Homo sapiens: one gene and its partners. The protein of the gene in region 3 purifies or fractionates together with the protein of the main gene of each other region. This does not show direct contact. Each region holds a gene or a part of one and is shown on either strand. Other genes may lie near its edges.

Evidence for each region. Proteins that work in one complex are often made in the same cells at the same time.
Region 1: the proteins of GTPBP10 (region 3) and MRPL42 purify together in Homo sapiens (co-immunoprecipitation; one large-scale study listed by IntAct). This does not show direct contact.
Region 2: the proteins of GTPBP10 (region 3) and EXOC3 fractionate together in Homo sapiens (co-fractionation; one large-scale study listed by BioGRID). This does not show direct contact.

What each region holds. Positions count from the first base shown.
Region 1 is NC_000012.12:93,483,851-93,489,186, forward strand, and holds part of MRPL42 (large ribosomal subunit protein mL42 precursor), read left to right. Parts: intron 1-3,646; coding exon 3,647-3,810; intron 3,811-5,336.
Region 2 is NC_000005.10:449,013-454,348, forward strand, and holds part of EXOC3 (exocyst complex component 3), read left to right. Parts: intron 1-4,357; coding exon 4,358-5,039; intron 5,040-5,336. UniProt on the Homo sapiens protein: Component of the exocyst complex involved in the docking of exocytic vesicles with fusion sites on the plasma membrane.
Region 3 is NC_000007.14:90,380,247-90,385,582, forward strand, and holds part of GTPBP10 (GTP-binding protein 10), read left to right. Parts: intron 1-2,709; coding exon 2,710-2,833; intron 2,834-4,645; coding exon 4,646-4,908; 3' UTR 4,909-5,336. UniProt on the Homo sapiens protein: May be involved in the ribosome maturation process. Complements an ObgE(CgtA) function in E.coli ribosome maturation. Plays a role of GTPase in vitro. When missing, disorganization of the nucleolar architecture is observed.

The DNA.
Region 1 (5,336 bases), on a different chromosome or scaffold from region 3:
GTGTACAGCTATACAAAAATATTTTCTTTATATCCTTATTCTATAAGCTTTTTTGTATTAAAATTTTTGTTTGCACTTTTTAAACTTTTTTTGTGAGAACTAAGACACAAACACAGTCTAGGCCCACACAGGGTCAGGATGATCAATATTACTGTCTTCTACCTCCACATTTTGTCCCACTGGAAGGTCTTCAGGTACAGTAACATGCCTGGAGCTGTCATCTCCTATGATAACAGTGTCTTCTTCTGGAATACCTCCTGAGGGGCTTGCCTGAGGCTGTTTTACAATTGACTTTTTTTTAACAAGTAGGAGTACGCTCTAAAATAATGATAAAAAGTATATAGTATAGTAAATGCATAAACCAGTTGCCTAGTCATTTATTATTATTTTTATTATTTAATTATTTTGGTTGAGACGGGGTCTCACTACATGTTACTCTGGCTGGTTTTGAACTCCTGAGCTCAAGCCTCACAAAGTGCTGGAATTACAGCCATGAGCCACTGTAGCCTGCCGTTATTTATTATTATTATCAAGTATTATGTGCTATACATAATTGTATGTGCTATACTTTTATACAGCTGGCAGTGCAGTTGGTTTGTTTACATTGGCACCACCACAAACATGTAAGCAATGCATTGCACTATGGCGTTCTGCACCATCACTAGGTGACAGGAATTTTTTTAGCTTCATGATAATCTTATGGTACCACTGTAGTATACACTGTCCTTCATCACTGTACATTGTTGACTAAAACATTGTTATTTCAGGCAGAATCTTGCCCTGTCACCCAGGGTGGAATGCGGTGGCATGATCTTGGCTCACTGAAACCTCTGCCTACTGGGTTCAAACGATTCTTCTGCCTCAGCCTCCCGAGTAGCTGAGGTTACAGGCATGCACCACAACACCTGGCTAATTTTTTGTATTTTCAGTAGAGACAGAGTTTCAACATGTTGGCCAGGCTGGTCATGAACTCTTGACCTCATGTGATCCGCTCACCATGGCCTCCCAAAGTGCTGGGATTACAGGCATGAGTCACTGCGCCCGGCCTCAAAACATTCTTATGCAGCCCATGACTTTACTTAATTGTGCCACCTCCATTGCTTTTTAAAAAACACACACACACACACACATATATATATATATATATATATATATATATATATATATATATATATATAAACAGAGATGGGGGGTCTTACCATGGTGCCTAGGCTGGTCTCAACCTCCTAGGCTCAAGCATTCCTTTGCCACTTTGACCTTCCTAAGTGCTGGGATTACAGGTGTGAGCCACTGCACGTGGCCCACATTGCCTTTTTTTTTTTTTTTAATTGACACAGGGTCTGTCTGTGTCACCAAGACTGGAATGCAGTGGCGTGATCTTGGCTCACTGCAGCCTCAGCTTCCCAGGCTTAAGTGATCCTCCCATTTCAGCCTCCTGAGTAGCCGGGACTGCAGGTGTGAGCTACCATGCCTGGCTAATTTTTTGTATTTTTTGTAGAGACAGCGTCTCCAACTCCTGAGCTCAAAGTGATCTGCCTGTCTCAGTCTCCCAAAGTGCTAGGATTAACACATGTGAGCCACCGCACCTGGCCACATTGCCTTTTAAAGAGGTCTTGTTTCATGTGCATAAACTAGATATAAATATATGCTATAATATTTAATACAGTGGTAGAATGTAGTTGTCACTAATAGCGTATGAATGTAAAGAAAATATGTTTGAATTGTTTCTTACTGGTTGTAAATTCAGATTTTCATTGTATTATAATACATACATATTGTTATTTTAAAGCAAGGCAGTGTTACAATCTTGTTACATATATATTATTATTGAATATGTTACTTTCATTATGATAGCGTTATATAGTATTGAATGTTACAATCTTTGTTACATACCTTAATATCACTTAATATTTAAAATATAGGTAACTTGACCCTCCAAGATAGTGATTCCTTTTGTTTTCCGTTTTGTTTTGTTTTGAGACAGGGTCTCACTCTTGCTCAGGCAGGAGGGTACTGTGCAGTCATGGCTCACTGCAGCCTTGAACTCCTGGGCTCAAAAGATCATCCTGCCTCAGACCCCAAGTAGCTGGGACTGCAGCCATGCACCACCACACCTGGCTAATTTATTTTTTGTTTTTAAATTTTTTGTAGAGATGAGGTTTTTAAATTTTTTGTAGAGATGTTGCCCAGGCTGGTCTCAAACTCCTGGGCTCAAGTGGTTCTGCCACCTTGACCTCTGAAAGTGCTGGGATTACAGATGTGAGCCACATAGCTGGCCAAGACACTGATTCTTAAAGTCTTTAGTGAGTCACTATTACTGGTGGAATATGTTGTATATCATTCATGTGTGTTGAGGAGATAAGATTTTTAGTAATCATTAACTTTGGGGGAAAGCTATTTAAATTACAATAAAGCACTGTTTGGTGGCATTTTAGTCACCTGAAATGAAAATGTTGAAAATTTTTCTGCTTCCATTGGATGTAAGAAATGTCATTTTCTTTCTTTTTTCTTTTTGAGACAGTCTTGCTCTTTCGCCCAGGCTGGAGTGCAATGGTGCAATCTTGGCTCACTGCAACCTCTGCCTCCTGGGCTACAGCGATTCTCCTTCCTCAGCCTCCTGAGTAGCTGGGATTACAGGTGTGCGCTACCGCACCAAGCTAATTTTTAAGTAGAGATGGGGTTTCACCATGTTGGCCAGGCTAGTCTTGAACTCCTGACCTCAGGTGATCCACCTGCCTTGGCCTCCCAAAGTGCTGGGATTACAGGCGTGAGCCACCGCACCCGGCCAAAAAATGTCATTTTCAATGAAAAGTTTTTAATTATTTCTCATCTTAATGATATAAAAGGTAAATGGTAAACTTTTAAGTTAAAAAATAATAATAGGCATAATTTATACCTTTGAGAAACAGAAACTAAAGTAATAAGTACTTTATTACTGCAGAAAATAAGAACATTAAATGAGGGCTTTCTTTTTTTCTTTTTTTTTTATTTGTAGTAGAGACACGGTCTCGCTGTGTTGCCCAGGCTGGTCTTGAACTCTTGAACTGAAGTGATCCTCCCACCTTGGCCTCCCAAAGTGCTGGAATTACAGGCATGAGCCACCACACCCGGCCTTTCTATTTTTCTTTCTCTTTTTTGAGACAGGGTTTCACTCTGTCACCCAGGCTGGAGCACAGTAGTGTGATCACAGGTAGCCTCGACCTCCTGGTCTCAAGTGATCCTCCCACTTCAGCCTCTTGAGTAGCTGGGACTGCAGGTGCATGCCATCACACCTAGATAGTTTTTAAATTTTTTTTGTCTGACCATGTTGTCCAAGCTGGTCCCATGCTTTGGAACTCCTGGGCTCAAGTGATTCTCCTGCCTTGGTTTCCCAAAGTGCTGGGATTACAGGCATGAGCCACTCACTGCACCTGGCCTAAATAAGAACTTTATTATTGGAAAAGAAACCTAAAATTTGCTGTGAGAAGAAAAATATTTCTGACTAATGAATAATGCACTAAGTGAAACTTTGTTTTGATAACTTATTTGCCCACCCTAAAGTACTATAGTGAATTACTGAATATGGTAATTGTTTTATTGTGATCTCAAACAAATGCTGGCTAACATTCCCACATCTTCATGATGTTTGTTACTGATTATTTTGTAGCCTATCCCTCGGCCAGATCCTGTGCATAATAATGAAGAAACACATGATCAAGTGCTGAAAACCAGATTGGAAGAAAAAGTTGAACACCTTGAGGAAGGACCTATGATAGAACAACTTAGCAAAATGTTCTTTACTACTAAGCACCGTTGGTATCCTCATGGACGGTAAGTTTTCTTTTCTTTTCTTCAATCCCTACTACATACAGTAAAGGAACACATGGATTTTCTTGCAATAACAAACTTCTGAAGTGGTGTTTTGCATGAGGAAATTAACCCTAAGTAGAATCACCTACTATGTTGTACTTTTTTTTTCTTTTCTGAGACAGGATCTCGCTCTGTCACCCAGGCTGGAGTGCAGTGCCACAATCTCAGCTCACTGCAGCCTCAACCTCCAGTGCTCAAGTGATCTTCGCACTTTAGCCTTCCGAGTAGCTAGTACTACAGGCATGTGCCACCACACCTGGCTAATTTTGTTCTTTTTTTTTTTTTTTGAGACAAAGAGTCTTGCTCTGTCACCCAGGCTGGAGTGCAGTGGCGAGATCTCGTTTCACTGCAACCTCCACCTCCCAGGTTCAAGCGATTCTCCTGCCTCAGCCTCCTGAGTAGCTGGGACTACAGGCGCATGCCACTATGCCCAGCTAATTTTTTGTATTTTCATTAGAGGCGGGGTTTTACCGTGTTAGCCAGGATGGTCTCGAACTCCTGACCTTGTGATCCACCCACCTTGGCCTCCCAAAGTGCTGGGATTACAGGCGTGAGCCACCGAGCCTGGCTCTTTTTTCTTCTTTTGTAGAGGCAAGGTCTCACTCACTGTGTTGCGCAGGCTGATTTTAAACTCCTGGACTCAAGTGATCCTCCTCCCTCAGCTGGGATTGTAAGAATGAGCCACTGCCACTGTACTTTTAAATTTACATATAATTTAGCTAAAATGAAATAGTACTTCTTTTTTTCTTTATTTTAATGGGGGAATTTAACCAGAGCTTTCAGTGAATTTTGTAAGAGTTCTTGAAAATTTTTACATTCTATGATGTATTCATTTAATATGTTGTTTTTGTTCATTTTCCTGTTAAGTAATTGATTGTGTCTTCAGCCCTTTATCAATTTCTTTATCATATTTTGAGTTATCGAAAAAAACATTGGGGTACAGAAAATGATTGGGCAGCGTATGTTGTTCTCAGTTCCCTTGGAAACTGTAATTGCCCTGATGTTTGCAAATACTCACATTTTCCATCGATTCTTACCTGCCATTTGACTCTGGCATTAATTAGTTTTCCTCTTTTTGATTTTTTTCTTTTGTATCTATCTTCTTCCATACCAAACTATAAGATGTTTTTGTTGTTTATATTTGAACAAACTTTTTTTTCTTTTTTTTTTTTGTGAGAAGGAGGTCTCATTATGTTACCCAGGCTGATCTTGAACTCGTGGGCTCAAGCAATCCTCCTTCCTCAGCCTCCTAAGTAGCTGGGATTACAGGCACACTCTGCCACGCCCAGCTAGTTTGAACAAAACTTTGTTCTTAGTTGTTTAACTCAGTAACTAGCACTGGCTGGCATATTTATGGCAGGGTACATTTATAGAATTAATGAATATACATTTATCAAGTGGCTCTAAGTGCTGGTTAGTGTAAAACATAATCCCCAGTTACAAATTGTTTATAGTCAAGGAGGGAAGATAGTAGAGTAAATAAACGG
Region 2 (5,336 bases), on a different chromosome or scaffold from region 3:
AATTTCCTCTTATTTCGTATTGGCTGGCTACATTTCCTTCCGGTCTTTTAAACTAATGCCTGATGACCAAAAAGGTGCATTACTGGAATTAGTTTATCCACAGCAGTTGAAAATAATTTCCTTTCCTTGGTGAACAAATGAGCCTGCGTGGTATGCATGTTTTTTGTTACGGATAAATTTTCATTGAGAAGATTGGTTTGGTTGCCTTCAGACTTGTCTCATTGCCTATAACTCAGCAATGCTGTGTACACAGCTCCCCTCCCCCATTTTTTCTTCTTCTAAAATGCATATGTACAGTTTGCCGTCTTAACCATTTTTAAGTGTACAGTTGGGGACTATTAAGAACATTCATATTGTTGTGCAACCATTGCCACATCCGTCTTCAGAACTCTTTTCATCTTGCAGACATGAAAATCTGTACCCATTAAACACTGACTTCGCACCCTCTGCCCCAGCTCCTGGTCACCACCATTCTGCCTTCTGTCTCTGTGAATTGGATGACTCTGAAGACCTCATAGAAGTGGCATCACACATTATCTGTCTTTCTGTGACATGCTTATTTCACTCAGCATGATGTCCTCAGGGGTCTTCTATGCTGTGGTATTGTAGAATTTCCTTCACTTTTAAGGCTGAATAATATTCCATTGTATGGATGGACCACATTTTGCTTATCCGTTTGTCTGTTGGTGGACATTTGAATTGCTTCCACGTTTTAGCTATTGTGAATAATGCTGTAGTGAACATGGGTGTACAGATGTTTTACTTTTATTTCTTTCTGGTATATACACACAAGTGTAATTGCTGGACCATGTGGTAATTTATGTTTAAATCTTTGAGCAGCTGCCAGACTGTTTCCTCCGGTGGCTGCAGCATTTTCCACCATGAGTGTGTGAGGTTTCTGATTCGTCTGCATTTTCATTCTTCTCTTAGGTTTTTAAAAATATCCCTTATGGCTGGGTGCGGTGGCTCACGCCCGTCATCCCAGCACTTTGGAAGGCTGAGGCAGGCGGATCACCTGAGGTCAGGAGTTTGAGACCAGCCCGGCCAACATGGTGAAACCCCGTCTCTACTAAAAATATAAAAATTAGCCGGGCGTGGTGGCAGGCGCCTGTAATCCCAGCTACTCAGGAGGCTGAGGCAGGAGAATCACTTGAACCCAGGAGGCAGAGGTCACAGTGAGCCGAGATCGCACCACTGCACTCCAGCCAGGGGGACAAGAGCGAGACTTCATCTGAAAAACAAAACAAAACAAAACAAAAGTCCCTTATGTTTCCTTTTTTGCCCCATTAATTGTTTAAGAGTATGTTGTTTAATTTCCACAAATTGGTGAATTTTACAGTTTTCCTTCTGATACTGATTTCTAATGTCATCTGTTGAGTTTGGAGAAGATACTTTGTATGATATTTATCTTTTAAAAACCTGAGTCTTAATTTGAGGCCTAATCCATGGTCTTTCCTGAAGACTGTCCCATGTGCACGTGAGAATAGTGTGTGTTCTGTTGTTGGGTGTTCTTTCTGTGTCTGTTCAGTCTGGTTGGTTGGTTGCATTGTTCAAGTCCTCTCTTTCCTTGTTTAGCTTCTGTCTGCTTGTTCTGTCCATTATTGAGAGAGAGATATTGAAGCCTCCGACTATTACAGAACTGAATGTTTTTCCCTTCAGTTCTATCCATTTTTGCTTCATGTATTTTGACGGTCTGTTAGTAAATGCAGAAATATTTATAATTGTTACATCTTCTTGCTGAACCTTCTATTAATACATATGGCCTTCTTTGTGACTAGTTTTTTTTTTTTTAATTTAAAGTATATTTCATATTTATTAGTATAACCACTCCTGTTCTCTTTTGGTTATTATTTATATGGAATATCTTTTTCCACCCTTTTACTTTCAACCTATTTGTGTCTTGGGCTCTAAGGTCAGTCTCTGGTGAACACATAGAGTTGAATCATGTTTTATTTTTTAAATCTATTTTGTCTACCTCTTTTGATTGAAGATTTTAATTAATTTTGCCTACCTCTTTTGATGGAAGAGCTTACATTTAAGTGATTACTGATAAGAAGGGACTTCTGTCATTTTGCTGTTTGTTTTCTATATGCGGTATAACATTTTTGTCTCTTATTTCTGCATTTTTTTTGTGCTTTTGATTATTTTGGTAGTAAACATTTTAATTCCCTTGTTTCTTTTGCGTATATTCTATAGCTGTTTTCTTTGTGCCTACCATAAAGATTACACTTAACATCTAACATTATCTCGCTTCAGTTTGAATTTATATCAACTTAACTTCAATAACACACAAAAACCGTCCCTATATGGCTTCATCTCCACTCCCTTTGGGTTGTTCATTTCACAAAATTACATCTTTATATATCATGTGTCCAAAATCATAGACTAATAATTGTTTTTTAATGCATTCATTTTTAAAAATTAGGTAGAAAACAATGTGGAGTTAGAATCCAAAGTTACAGTATTAGTAGCTTTTAGACTATTTTTTAATGTATTAGTTTCTTTTTTATTTGTCCCTTTTAACCAGAACAAATATTAGTCTCTTAAGTCATGTACGAAACAGAGTGATGAGTTAAAAACTGAAGTGTTAATGATACTAGATTTTACGATTGTCCATGAATTTACCTTTTTTGAGGCCTTTGCTTCTTCACGTGGCTTCCAGTTGCTCTCTAGCATTCTTTCTTCTCAACCAGTGGGACTCTATTTAAGCATTTCTTGCAGGGCAGATCTTGTGGTAACAAGCTTTTCAGCTTTTGTTTATCTGGGGATGTCTTAATATCGCTCTCACTTTTGAATGACCATTTTGCTAGATTTAAGGTTCTTGGTTGACAGTATTTTTCTTTTAGCACTTTGAATATGTCATCCCACTGCCTCTGGCCTCCAAAGTTTCTGGTGAGAAATCTGATCTGCTCATAATCTTATTTTGGAGCCCTTGTTTCTGACAAGTTGCTGCTTTCAGAATTCTTTCAAAAGTTTGATTAAGTTGTATCTTAGTGTGGACCTCTGAGTTCCTCTTGCTTGGAGGTCATTGAGCTTCTTGGATCTTCATATTCATGTCTTTCATCAAATGTGGGGAGTTTTCACCTATTATTTCTTCAAATAATGTCTTGCCCATTTCTCTCTTCTCCTTCTAAAAGTCCCACTAAGCATATGTTGGCCTGCTTGATGATGTCCACAAGGTCCCTGAGGCTCTGTTCACTTTTCTTCAATCTTTTTTCTTTCTGTTCCGGATACTTGATATTTCCCATTGTCCTGTCTTCACATTCACTGATTCTTTCTTGCGCCTGTGCAGATCTGCCTTTGAATCCCTTTAGTGAATTTTTCATTTCATTTATTGTACTTTTCAGCTTCATATTTTCTGTTTGGTTTCCTTTTGGATTTTCTGTCTCATTATTGGTATTTCCATTTTGCTCATACATGTCTTTCTTCACATCTTTAAGTTCCTTAGGCATCTTTAAATCGTTGTTTTAAAGTCTTTCTCTAGTAGATCTGCCATCAGATCTTTTACAGGAACAGTTTCTTATGTTTTCCTTTGAATGGGCCATACTTTCTTCTTTCTTTGGGTGCCTTGTGATGTTTTTGTTGTTGAAAAATGGACACTTGAATCGAATAATGTGATAACTCTGGAAATCAGATCCCCTTCCCAGGTTGATGATTCTTGTTTTTGGTTGTTGTAGGCTCTCTGTGCCAAGGCACAGCCTGAGGTGTGAACTTCAAGGTCGTGTCAAGTCTTTTCTGAGCCTATGCCTTTGCCTGGGCATGCATTGGCCACTTCCGAATTTTTCCTATAAATGCAGTTACTTTTGAATGTCTTCATTCATAAATATCTGGCTTTCAAGAAGGGGAACAGATGAAGGGGGTGGTGAAGACATTGGCCCTTTAAATTCCCTGGAGCTCTGTGGGGGTGAGGAGGGACCTGTGAACAGGGGAAGATGCAACAGTGGCCACTTACCTCTTCGCACCTCTGTGGTCAGAAGCAGCAGTCAGTGATCTGAGTACAGATCTCCGGTGTGGAGGACAGGGTTCTTTTTGCCCAGCCAGGCTGCAGGCTGTGTGCAGGCAGCTTTAGGAACACATCAGCACATGCACAGCTGCCTGCGGGGTGGGAGGTGGGGCCTCGGTAGCCACTGCCCAGCTGAGAGCTGCAAATGACCACAGTTAACCACAGTTTACCATTTATGCCTTTAATAGACTCCAGAGTTCCAAAGATAGTTACCTCAGACACATCCTGCCATTGCAGTTGTTGTTAGCTAGGGAGATGTGGCTTCCTGCTCTGCCGTGTTCCCAGAACACCGCATGCAGGCAGCCTTTTATGTGGTGGTGGTTGTTTATGTTGTGTCTTGTGCCTTCTCCCTAGTGCCTGAGATTGTGAGGGAGACCCAGGACCTAATTGAACAAGGGGCACTCCTGCAAGCCCACCGGAAGCTGATGGACCTGGAGTGCTCCCGGGACGGGCTGATGTACGAGCAGTACCGCATGGACAGTGGGAACACGCGTGACATGACCCTCATCCATGGCTACTTTGGCAGCACGCAGGGGCTCTCTGATGAGCTGGCTAAGCAGCTGTGGATGGTGCTGCAGAGGTCACTGGTCACTGTCCGCCGTGACCCCACCTTGCTGGTCTCAGTTGTCAGGATCATTGAAAGGGAAGAGAAAATTGACAGGCGCATACTTGACCGGAAAAAGCAAACTGGCTTTGTTCCTCCTGGGAGGCCCAAGAATTGGAAGGAGAAAATGTTCACCATCTTGGAGAGGACTGTGACCACCAGAATTGAGGGCACACAGGCAGATACCAGAGAGTCTGACAAGATGTGGCTTGTCCGCCACCTGGAAATTATAAGGAAGTACGTCCTGGATGACCTCATTGTCGCCAAAAACCTGATGGTTCAGTGCTTTCCTCCCCACTATGAGATCTTTAAGAACCTCCTGAACATGTACCACCAAGCCCTGAGCACGCGGATGCAGGACCTCGCATCGGAAGACCTGGAAGCCAATGAGATCGTGAGCCTCTTGACGTGGGTCTTAAACACCTACACAAGGTAAAGCTAACCTGGCGCCTGTGTTGGCTCTTAGGTAGAAGCCGTGTGTGAGAGGGGCCTGCAGCTGCTTGCTGGAGAGCCGACCTCAGGGTGTTGCTCTGGGCAGGTGCTCCGAGCCCACAGCCTTGGTTTCCAGCCCAGGGGTGTCTTCTTTCTGCTCTGCCTGCTGGTGCCCAGCCTCTGGTGTTTGAACACTGTTGTGCTTGGGAGGGATCTCTGCTCTTGGCCTCCAGCCCCCGTTGAGCTTGACAGGGTGCAGCTCTGGGCTGGGCCTGTTTCCTGTGCTCACCGTGTGCT
Region 3 (5,336 bases):
TTTTGTATTTTTAGTAGAAACAGGGTTTCACCATGTTGGCCAGGCTGGTCTTGAACTCCTGACCTCAGGTGATCCGCCCACCTGGCTTCCCAGAGTGCTGGGATTACAGACGTGAGCCACCATGCCCAGCTGGAAATTAAGTCCCTTCTAAGATACATAATTTGAAAATATTTTCTCCCCTTCTGTGACTTGTCTTTTCACTTTTTCAGTGTATTTTTTCTGTATTCTTTGTGGCACAAAACTATTATTTATTTATTTAATTTTCCAGTTTTATTAAAGTGTAATTGACATAAAAATTGTGTGTACTTAAAGTGTACAAGTGATATTTGGATATATGTTTACCTTGTGAAATGATTGAATCAAGCTAATTAACATGATCCATCATCTTACATACTATTTTATGTGTGTTGAGAATATTTAAAATCTGTTTTAGCAATTTTCAAATATATAATACATTAACTATAGTCATCATACTGTAAAATAGATCTTCAGGGCTTATTCATCCTATTTAATTGAATCTTTGTTCCATTTGACCAACACCCCTCCATCTTCCTCCCCCAAGCACCCTGGCAACCACCATTTTCTCTGCTACTATGAATTCAACCTTTTAAGATTCCACATATAAGTGGGATTATGCAGTATTTTTTTTTCTGTGCTTGGCTTATTTCACTTAGCATAGTGTTCTCCAGGTTCATCCATGTTGTTATAAACGACAAGATTTTCTTTTTTTAAGGCTGAATAATATTCAGTTGTGTGTGTGTATACCACATTTTCGTTATTCATCCATTGATGGACACTGAGGTTGATTCCATGTCTCGGCTATTGTGAATAATGTTTCAGTAAAAATGGGAATGCAGAGATCTCTTTGACATACTGATTTTATTTCCTTTGGATATATACCCAGAAGTGGGATTGCCGGATCATATGGTAGTTCTATTTTTAATTTTTTGAGAAATCTTTATACTGCTTTTTACAATGGCTGTACTAATTTACATTCCCACTCAACGGTGTTCAAGAGTTCCTCTTTCTCCATATCCTTGACAACACTTGTTATCTTTTGTCTTTTTGATAATAGCCATCCTTCCAAGTGTGAGGAGCTATCTCATTGTGGTTTTTCTTTTCATTTCCCTAATGATCAGTGATGTTGAACATTTTTTCATACATATATTGGTCATTTGTTTGTTGTTGAGAAATGTCAATTCAGGTTCTTTATCCATTTTTAAATCAGGTTTATATTACCCAAAGTGATCTACGGATTCAGCACAATCCATATCAAAATTCTAATGGCATTTTTCACAGAAATAGAAAACAAATCTTAAAATTTGTATGGAACATCAAAAGACCCTGAATAGCCAAAGCAATCTTATCTTGAGCAAAAGGAACAAAGCTGGAAGCTTCACACTACCTAATTTCAAAACCTACTACAAAGCTATCATAATCAAAACAGCGTGGTACTGGCATAACAGTAGACACATAAACCAATGGAACAGAATCCAGAGCTCAGAATTAAATCCATGCATTTACAGTTAATTTTCGACAAAGGTACCTAGAACACACAGTAAGGAAAGGACAGTTTTCTTCGTCAATAAGTGATACTGAGAAAACTGAATATCCACATGCAGAGAAATGAAATTAGATCCTTACTTCACACCATATAAAAAATCAGTTCAAAGTTGATTAAAGACTTAAAGCCTGAAACCATAAAACCACTAGAAGAAAACAGAGAAGTTCCATGACATTTGTCTGAGCAATGATTTTTTTTTAATGTGACCCCAAAGCACAGGCAACAAAAAGAAAAATAGACAAGTAGGATTGCATCAAACTAAAAAGCTTCTGCACAGCAAAAGGAACAGTCAGCAGAGTGAAGAGGCAACCAAGGGAATGGGAGAAAATATTTGTAAATCATATATCTGATAAGTGGTTGATATCCAAAACATAAGGAAGCAAAACAACTCTCAATAGCAAGAAAACAACTCAAAATTTTTAATTTTCATGAAATTCCATTTGTTTCATTCTTTTCTTTCCTTTTTTAAAATTAAACTAAAATTTTGTATAGAGATGGGGTCTCGTTATGTTGTCAAGGCTTGTCTTGAACTCCTGGGCCCAAGCAATGCTCCTACCTCAGCCTCCTAAAGTGCTGAGATTACAGGCATGAGCCACCATGCCCAGTCTTACATATTTATTTATTTTTATTACAAACAGGGCTTCGCTCTGTCATGTAGGCTAGAGTGCAGACATGATCCTAGCTCATTGTAGCCTCAAACTCCTGGTGGCCTTAAGCAGTCTTCTGCCTTTTATCTATTATTTTACTTGTGCTTTTCATGTTATATCTAAGAAACAGTTGTTTAATCCAAGGTAACAAAGATTTATTCCTAAGTGCATTTACTTTTTCCAAGAATACTACAGGTATAACATTCAGTGATCATTACTGACTTCTGAATTTTATCTGTGTGAAGTCCAGATACCCATATTTGACTCTAGACGCAAAATTACAACTGTCTCTAGGATATCATTTAAGCTAAAACATACTAACACATGACTTAACCAGAGTCATTTTCTGAAATTCTTCCTTTTGTTTTCTGTTGTTGGGATTTATTGCATTTCGGTGATGTGAATGGGTTTTAGATCACCTGGGTCATTAATTACCAAATAAGTAGTTTATACAGAAACCAGTACTAAAATTATTGGGTTTTCTCTTTTGATTTAAAGGAGTTGGAATTGTACAAAGAGGAACTTCAGACAAAACCTGCACTCTTGGCAGTTAATAAAATGGACTTGCCAGATGCCCAAGATAAGTTCCATGAATTGATGAGCCAGCTCCAGAATCCTAAAGGTAAACCTATTTATTCATTTAATTCTAATTTAAAGAATAATTACAATGTACAGAGAATGCTGTTATAATCAGTGGAAAACTGACAGTTTCTGCTCTTAAAAGTCAAGTTTGAAGAAAGAATATACAAAACATGTAAATAACATTGTAACATAATAATTACCAAATTCTAGAATGTTTGATATGGACAGTAAATTAAAGGAGACAAAAGAAAGATTAATTTGAACTAAAAAGGTCAGGCTACATGAAGAATAAAACTTAAATTGGGCCCATAAGGCATATGTGGGATTTGAATAAAAGGAGGAAAAAGTCAGCATCTACCTGTGAAGTCTTTCACTTTCATTAACATACTTCACAAGCTCTTCATTCGTCTAGTACTGTACATCATAAAATTAAAGACAGAACTAAGAAGTTCTAAAGAAGTATGTTTCTTGGCAAAAGTAACTCTATAGGTTTCTGAAGAGGATGAGTCTTCTGAAAAGAACTTCATTTTTCCTGTGTATGTGTGACACAATAATAGAAGCTGTGACTCCAAAATGATTTATTTGTCTGGAATTTACTTCCTGGACTATATGTAAAGTAACTTAAAGGGATTCTCCACAGTTTTGAATATTGACATTTGCAGAACACCTTCTATCCTATGGCAATGGTGGTTTCATTCAGAGTCTAGTAGAGAACCTCATGCACAAATGAGGAAAAGTAGGGTGTATGGTATGTGGCTAACATGTTTTTCAATATGTCTCTGTTTTTATTCTTGGTAACAATTGTTGGAAAATAGATTATAGGTACTAAGACTGTCAAACAGCACCAGAAGGTCCTTTCCTCTCAAAAATCTTTCCCCTGTGTAATCTACATGTTGGAGCTGTCCTTGAGTTAATAAATTACTCATGGGATATAAATATTCTCTGATACTAAATAGCCTTCATTCCTAATGACATTTGCTTTGTATGGTCATTAGTTCTTTTTGCTAGTTGATCTTGCAGAGAAGGGAATTTTCAGAGGAAATACCGAAAGTGAGGGTGACTCAGGAGTCTGTAGCTGTTCTGACCTATCGTGAAATAAAATATAGGCCCTTTAGTGATAATCCTGAGTTATCCTCTCTGGACTTTCTTCGGGGCTTTTGAATCTCAGAAAGTAAGCTCCATGTTGTCTTCTCCACCAATCTGTTTCAGTCCAGCCTTTCTAGTTCATATCAGTTAATCCATCTAATCAGTATGCCATCTCCCCAGCCAATCAGTATGCCATGGTGACAGGGAAGAGGTAAAAGTAATATAACAATTGTTAGCCCTTGTGGGGTGATAGATTGGACTCATCTGAAATTATCTTCCCTTGAATTCTCTATAATCCCTCTTCAGTTTTTGTATGGATCCTAGCATCATTGATGATAAACCTATACTTTGGGGAAGTTAAAGGTCTCCAGTGTACTGAGGCCAAGTAGAATGTCTCAAATCATAAATGATGTTATTATTTTTACAGAAAGTATCTTTCAGAGAATCAATGCTGCCTTGCCTTATTTAACCCCCCCCACACACACAAAATTTATTACTTCCTTAAGTAAGTCATTTTTGTGATTCATCTTCTACTCATACTTAGTTTGGTTTAAAATATATTTATCTAACAAGTATGTTATGTGCCAAGAACCTTACCATAATCAATGGTAAAATCCAAAGGCTCTGAGAACTTATTAGAAAAGGTGAAAAAAGGCATGAAAAATGCTGGTGTTGGTTCCCTGCTTCACAAATCAAACCATTAACATGGTTTTAACTAACTTTCGAAAACAATGGAAATCAGCTTTGTTTGTGCTCTTTCTTTTAGATTTTCTGCATTTATTTGAAAAAAACATGATTCCAGAGAGGACTGTAGAGTTCCAACATATCATCCCCATATCTGCAGTTACTGGAGAAGGAATCGAAGAATTAAAGAATTGTATAAGAAAGTCACTGGATGAACAGGCCAACCAGGAAAATGATGCACTTCATAAGAAACAGTTGCTTAATTTGTGGATTTCTGATACAATGTCTTCTACTGAGCCACCATCAAAGCATGCTGTTACTACTTCCAAAATGGATATAATTTAAATATATTAAAAATGGTATTGATGGAACAGTATTTAATGCTTAAAAACAAGGAAATCCTTTCATCTGTGACAACCTGGAGGACATGTTAAGTAAAATAAGCCAGGCTTAGAAAGACAAATGCTGCATAATCTCACTGTGGAATCTTAAGTTGAACTCATAGAAGGAGAGAATAGAATGGTGGTTATCAAGGGCTGGTGGGGCAGTGGAGGATTGAGGAGATATTGGTCAAAATTTACAAAATTTCAGTTAGACAAGGCAACTGAGTTCAAGAGATCTGTTGTACAGCTTGGTGACTGTAATTAACAACAATGTATTTTGAAAGTCACTGAGTAAATTTTAAGTGGTTTTTCCAAAAAAGCACATAAGGTAATGCACGTTAATTAGCTATATTGAGCCATTCCACAATGTATAGATATTTCAAAACATGT